2 linked regions of the Homo sapiens genome follow. The protein of the gene in region 2 interacts with the protein of the main gene of each other region in a pairwise test. Each region holds a gene or a part of one and is shown on either strand. Other genes may lie near its edges.

Region 1 (3,500 bases), on a different chromosome or scaffold from region 2:
AGGCCCCGCGCTGGCGGGCGCTCCTCCCTGAGCGGCGGGAAGCAGGCGGCAGCGGCGGTGGCGTCGGCTGAGCAGAGGACCCAGCGGGCAGACTCGCGGGTCGGACAGGATCGTCGTGACAAAGGCTTCGACAGCTTGCTGGAATAGAGGATCTCTGCTGCCTCGCCTCTTCTGTGGCCTTCGTGTGGGATGCACGAGACGGCAGGACCCAGATAACCGTTCTCTCAAAGACACAATGTTTGCACGAGGACTGAAGGGGAAACGTGTTGGCCACCAGGAAGACGTGGAGGGAGCCCTGGCCGGCTTGAAGACCGTGTCCTCGTACAGCTTGCAGCGGCAGTCCCTCTTGGACATGTCCCTGGTGAAGCTGCAGCTTTGCCACATGCTTGTGGAGCCCAACCTGTGCCGCTCAATCCTCATTGCCACGTGGTCCGGCAGATCCAAGAGGAGATGACGCAGGATGGGATACGGCGCACACCCCAGGCTGCAGGGTGGGCGCCGCTGGACCACTTGGTCTTCATGGAGATTCTGTGCCGCGCGGCGTGGGAGCAGGAGGGGGCACGTCCTGCCTCTGGCTTGGGAGACGGCCACGCACAGGGCTCAGTTTCTAACCTTTGCCCAGTCACCTCAGCACAGACGCCGAGGCACCCGCAGAGGGAGGAGCGTCTGGGAGATGGATGGCCCTCAAGAAAACAGAGGAAGCTTTCGCAAATCACTCGATCAGATATATATGAAACGCTGGAGACTAAAATCCCCCGCTACATGGAAGAGCTGTTTTCAGGCGTGGACAGCCCCTACTACAACCTGGACACAGTACTGACAGGCATGATGGGGGTGCCGGGCCGGGCCCCTGTGAAGGGCTCGAGGGCTTGGCTCCGGTCACCCCGTGCCCCAGCTCCATCTGCAAGTCCGATCTGGGCGAGCTGGACCACATGGTGGAGATCCTGGTGGAGACCTGAACCAGAGCCCTGAGCGCTCGCAGCTGTGTCTGACGCGTGGACACGTGAGCACTGGCTCCCGTAGAGGGTGCGCCTGCCGCCCGCTGCCCAGCCTTGCTGCCCTGTCTGCTGATTCTGAGAAATCCCAGAACAGACCATCATCAGCAGGGTCTGCAACCCCAGGCCCGTCCCACTCACTTTCCCCGCTGTGGAGGGCCAGGCAGAGATGGCTGTTCTCCTGGAAGACTTCTCCTCTCTGGACCGGTCCTGACGTCCTTACAGCCCTGGGCCCTTCGTCTCTCTTTGTGTCCCCCACTGTAGAGGACGGCGAACCACAGCTGCATCAACCTCCTTTACATTCAGACAGGTGATTTTTTTACAATTCAGTTTTAAGTGTTTTGGGCAATATTTTGTCTTAAGATACATATTTTTAAACTTTTTATACCTTATGTCTTTAGATTTTTTCAGCTATTTTCTTAAAAGTATATTTTTTCTATAAATATCCTTTGCTGCGACATTAGAACTTTTATAGCCTGAACAATTGTAGTTGGTGTGTTTCATTTTTTTCAGGTTTAAATAAGGGATTTTTTTTGCAGTGGGCATCACTACGGTCCTTGTCAACAGTGTGAGTGTATCATGTTTTACTTTAAATGTGCGTGCAATACTTCTCCATTATGTTCTGTGCTACCGTGAGACCTGGGTGAAACTCAAAAACCGCACACAGCTACTACATTTTTTTTGTCATTAGAAAATCTACTGTGGGAGCCACATCTTCCTAGACTTGAGCATAAATTATGGAGAATTTTATTTATGTCTATTTATGTGTAAATGTCATTGAAGGCAAAGGTCAAATATTTGTCTGTTTGGAGATCACGGGCACCAGTTGGTCTTCAGGACCTCAGAGACCCTCCGTGGTGCCTTCTGACAGGCGGTGTTCCTGAAGGCCTCCCGTCAGCCCAGGCACCTGCCCTGGCTGAGGAAATAGCATTGCTACTGGATTAGAAATGCCTGTGCTGCTCTGTTAGATTGGTGCTGGAACAAAAGGTTAAGGCTGAAGTCTAGAATGAAAGAAATCCGAATCCCTGTCATTCATGGCCCCTTGATCTGTAGGGTCATAGGTGCTGCCTCAGGGAGTGAGCTGGAGGTGCCTGCAACCTTCCTCTCCTGCCCCGCCTCACCCCTCTTGTGTTTCCTGTTTCTCATGCTTTTTCTAACTTCCTCACCCCTTAGCCAAAAAGGTTTGTTTTCTTTTGTGGATACAGCCATTCTTAAATATCAGTGATGTAAACCTCACTTTATTAAAAAATTATCCATCAAAACAAAACAAAACAAAGGTAAAGAAAATAGACAAGGCATAAGGATTTTTAAAGTTTTGGGTTTTTTAAAAGCAAGAATTGAAATAAAAATAACATAATGAACGAATATAACAATGATTAGCTAAACTATTAATATTTGGTACACAAACTCATTTTGGATAAAAACTGCATTTTCTTAAACATTAAAAAAAGAGGCTGGGTGCGGTGGCTCACGACGGTAATCCCAGCACTTTGGGAGGCCGAGGCGGGCGGATCACGAGGTCAGGAGATTGAGACCATCCTGGCTAACACGGTGAAACCCCGTCTCTACTAAAAATACAAAAAATTAGCGGGGCGTGGTGGCAGGCGCCTGTAATCCCAGCCACTCGGGAGGCTGAGACAGGAGAATGGCGTGAACGTGGGAGGCGGAGCTTGCAGTGAGCCAAGATCGCACCACTGCACTCCAGCCTGGGGGACAGATCGAGATTCTGTCTCAAAAAAAAAAAAAAAAGAAATGATCCCTCCCTAGACCTTATTATCTCATGAGGAAATATAAGGATGAAAGGCACTTTTTTTTAATTTTATTTTTATTTTTATTTTTTTGAGACAGAGTCTTGCTCTGTCACCCAGGCTGGAATGCAGTGGCATGATCTCAGCTCACTGCAACCTCTGCCTCCTTGGTTGAAGCGATTCTTACCTCTGACTGTGATACTTACTATGATCTTAGAAAAATCATTTTTTTTTTCGGACCCCTAGTTTTTTCTTCTGTAAAATGTGGATTATAGTATTTCATAGGGTTTCTTGAAGATATTAAACGCGAAGATTTTGTGAAGGGCTGGGAGAAATGTCAGGAAACATTGTAAAATCTGGGCATGCCTGTAAACAATTGAATTTCTGCTTGTACTTATAGAGGACCATGTTTACAAAATTTTTGCCCATCCAAGTAATTCTTTCAAATAGTGATGTCTGAGTAAGAAAAGTTTGATACTGATTTACTGTCCTCTGGACACTAAAAACCTATCATTCAGAATTAGCTGCATTAACTGTTCTTTAAACATCTTTAGTAAAATGAATTATTATCTTCTCATGAAATTTAAAAGGTACCTATAAGCAAATATCTTTGTGATGTAACAGAGTTTATAGAGAGTGAATGACAAATGGCAGCCACAAAATCACTTGATTACAACTTAGTTCATGCCTATCACCTTCTGCTGGGTAATTAAAACATGCAGAAGGGTCCAACCATAAGCAGCAGAACACAGTAGTG
Region 2 (3,500 bases):
AATTACGGTACCTCAGGGTCATGAGTCAAACAATCAGACCTGCCAAGACTTGACACCCCAAATGCATCACTTCTGACATCCATTGGGTCCAGGAATCCCCTGCCTCATGAATATCCATCTTAGTGTGCATGCCTCCAAGAATGGGGAGCTCACTACTTTGCGAGGCAGCGCATTCCATCTTAGGAGAGTTCTACTGTTTAAAAGCTCTTCCTCCAACTGCCCCCACTGAGCAATGGGTCCACTTTCATTTCCTTGGGGTTTGTACCATTCTAGTCCTATTGCTTCTCTCTGAGCTAAATATCCACAGCTACTAAATCTGCCCCCCTTGAAAAGTGTTAAATCCTCAATTCCTCCTCTGAGCTCCTCTGGTTTTCCTGGGGACCTAAGGCTCTGCTTCCCCAAAACACCCACTCCAGGGTTGTTTTCTAGAACAAACGTAAGGCATGAAGTATTTCTTTGACTCTTTCATCACAGTGGGTTCTGGAAGATTCTGGAGGCTGGAAACATATGTGCCTCCCCCTCCCCACACACATTCCAAAAAAGTCATCACAGCAGAAAGCACGGTGGAACAAACAGCTCTCGGTTCGAATTCACCGTCACTTACTGGCCAGGAAAGTTATCTGAGCCTCAGTTTCTTCTCCTGTACAATGGGGAGCATCATTCCTATTTTTGAGGACCACTAGGAGGCTTACCTCTGTTTGTGCTGATGTAGTGAAAGGGGATGTCAGGCACACTGCAGGAGCTCAGGTACCAGACGGACTGTCTATGGAGGCAGGAGTGAGGGCCTGGGGCGGTCACAGAGGTTGCATTTGCTTTGCAGTAAGGCCATGGCCGCTTAAGGGTGTCCAGAAAAAAGCCCTGTCCGACATGCACACACTCCTGTGTCCAGGCAATGAGCCTGTGGGCACTGACAGCAAGAGTCCTTCTCACGCTTCTCTTCAGGGCTCAAACTTTAGATTTACTCCGGCCTGTCCCATCCCATTCACTGCCAACCCCTCTGAGCCTCTCTGATCTGTGCCACCGGTGAAGGGCAGTCGTGGGGCACAGAGAAGTGGCCCAGCTGAGTGACATCTGGAAATGAGCAGTGCCTGAGGGGACGCCCGTGGGGTGTTGTGACCTGTACAGTGCCAGGCTCCAGCACAGCCCCGTCGCTTCTGTGGTTCTTATCATGGTCATGAGGTCGCTTCTCCTCTTCCCTGCGGGTTTCCTAAGTGGTCACACTCCAGTGGCAGGGTGGTCTGCCGGAGAAAGACCAAAATTTGTCATACTTTAGAATCACCTGGAGACTGGTCACCCACGCAGGTGCGGGGGTCCTGCTCTGGGGACTGTGATTTGAAGTCTGGGTACTATTCACTGAAATGACAGACTGCGGCAAATCTCAATCAATCAAGGTTCATCGAGTTGATAAACTTCAATTGACATTTATCGAGAGTTTGAGGGTGCACCTGGGAAAAACATGAGCCACAGAAAATGTGTGTGGCCTATGCTCTCCGAAGAGTCATGAGACTTAGTGTTGTAAATCAAAGAGAAACTGACTGAAGCAGGTCTCAATTATTTTTGAAGTTTATTTTGCCAAGATTAAGGATGCACCCAGGAAAGAGGGACACGAAATCACAGGAAACATCTCTGGCCCATGCTTCTTTCAAAGAAGGGTCTTCACTATTCAAAGGGAAAAAAGCAGGCAGTAGGGGAAAGAAGGAAAAATCGGGGGAAGGTGGCCAAAAGAGGCAAGCAGTTGCACCCCTTTGAGCCTTTTCATTAACTTCACTGAATGCACATTTTTCATGTGAAAGAAGCAGGTGGAGGAATCATCAATTCCGCATTCACCTGGTGCTCAGTCAATCTGCATTTTTATATAAGATAAAATAATCATAGGGCTGGGCACGGTAGCTCACAACTGTAATCCCAGCAGCTTGGGAGGCCAAGTTGTGTGGATCACCTGAGGTCAAGAGTTCGAGACCAGCCTGTCCAACATGGTGAAACCCTGTCTCTACTAAAAATACAAAAACTAGCCAGGCACGGTGGTGCATGCCTGTAGTCCTAGCTACTTGGGAAGCTGAGGCAGGAGAATCATTTGAACTCAGGAGGCAGAGGTTGCAGGGAGCTGAGATCACACCACTGCACTCCAGGCTGGGTGACAGAGCAAGACTCTATCTCAAAATAATAATAATAATAATAATCATCATCATCATCATCATAGCATATAGGAAGCTGTCAGCTATGCACTCGTCTCAGGTGAGCAGAGGGATGACTTTGGGTTCTATCCTTTGTTCCATACCTGTGAAGCTAAGCTGTTAATTTATATCATGAGGGTGAAATACAACAGAGCTGCTTGAAGGCAAAGATCCTGGGGCCCACAAGGAATTTCACTGTGAGCAAAATGTGAGGGAAGTAAATAGTTATCCATTTAGACACAAAACGGGAGGCGGGTTGCATGACCCAGCTCCCAGCTAGACTTTTCCCTTTGGCTTAGTGCGTTTGGGGTCTGGGGATTTTAATTTTATTTTTCTTTCACAGTATTTACACATGTCCTTGAAGTGGAGAAAGCATGTAGGAAGAGGAGGTTAGGCAGAAGGAGGCCTGATCTCATCTTGCCTTTGTCTTGCTTTTATGCTGTACCTGGGGAGATCAGCACCATCAGCGTGACTCTAACAGACTTGAGTGTGAGGAGCTAGGCTTGGATTGCAGACCTCAAGTTACAATTGATGTGTCCTTGTTTTGTGGTAAGATCCACATCTTGAAAGGTTTCACCCAGCAAAGAACAATTTGTGGGGGCAGTCATGGGGAGATATCCGAGGCCTTTTCCTTTCTGTGGGGGTCTGGCTAATGTCTAAGGTTGTGGAGTAACAGCTGTCATTAGGAATAAGGATGACAATGTTGGCTGACTCAGTCTCCAGGCTTAACTTTCCCTTTGGCATAAAGAGTTTGGGGGTCCCAAGATTTCTGTTTTCCTTTACAGTACTCAAGGACTTGCTAATATCTCAGGGGATTTCAGCCACACTTTGAAACAAGCTACCTTAGCAAATGGTCTGTCCTGGACCCAAAAGCCACTCTCCTCAGGCCCTTCCTCCTAGTCCCACCAGCCAAAAAACTTGGGGACCCCAAACCTGTTCTTCACTCTCTGGCACCTGTGCTCATGTGCCTGCTGCCTCAGGAAAGGACAGAAACCCTCCCCGATCCAAGTTATTAGCAAACTGCCCATCTCCACAAAAATTTAAATGGACAGATTGTTAAATGCACACAGCTCACAGCCAGCTCCTTTCAAGGTAGATTTGGGCCCAAACATTTCGGGAAGCATCAGGCTGTGCCCCGCCATCCCTACCAAACAGGAATCCTCTCGAGGGAAAAGACTGGGCCTTTCCCTCAGCCCCTAGCACCCACTCATGCTTGGCACCTGCTGTGCTCTAAGAGTGCAGGGGTCACTCCCTGACCACAGAGGGAGGCTCTCTGGGGTTCTCCCGGAGCCTCGGAGATTGCACCTTGTGCATGCGCTGCTGCAC

Evidence for each region. The genes of interacting proteins can lie anywhere in the genome.
Region 1: the proteins of BDKRB2 (region 2) and CLCA4 interact in a two-hybrid assay, tested with the Homo sapiens proteins (one large-scale study listed by BioGRID and IntAct).

What each region holds. Positions count from the first base shown.
Region 1 is NC_000001.11:86,550,078-86,553,577, reverse strand, and holds part of CLCA4 (calcium-activated chloride channel regulator 4 precursor), read right to left. Parts: intron 1-3,500. UniProt on the Homo sapiens protein: May be involved in mediating calcium-activated chloride conductance.
Region 2 is NC_000014.9:96,207,839-96,211,338, forward strand, and holds part of BDKRB2 (B2 bradykinin receptor), read left to right. Parts: intron 1-3,500. UniProt on the Homo sapiens protein: Receptor for bradykinin. It is associated with G proteins that activate a phosphatidylinositol-calcium second messenger system.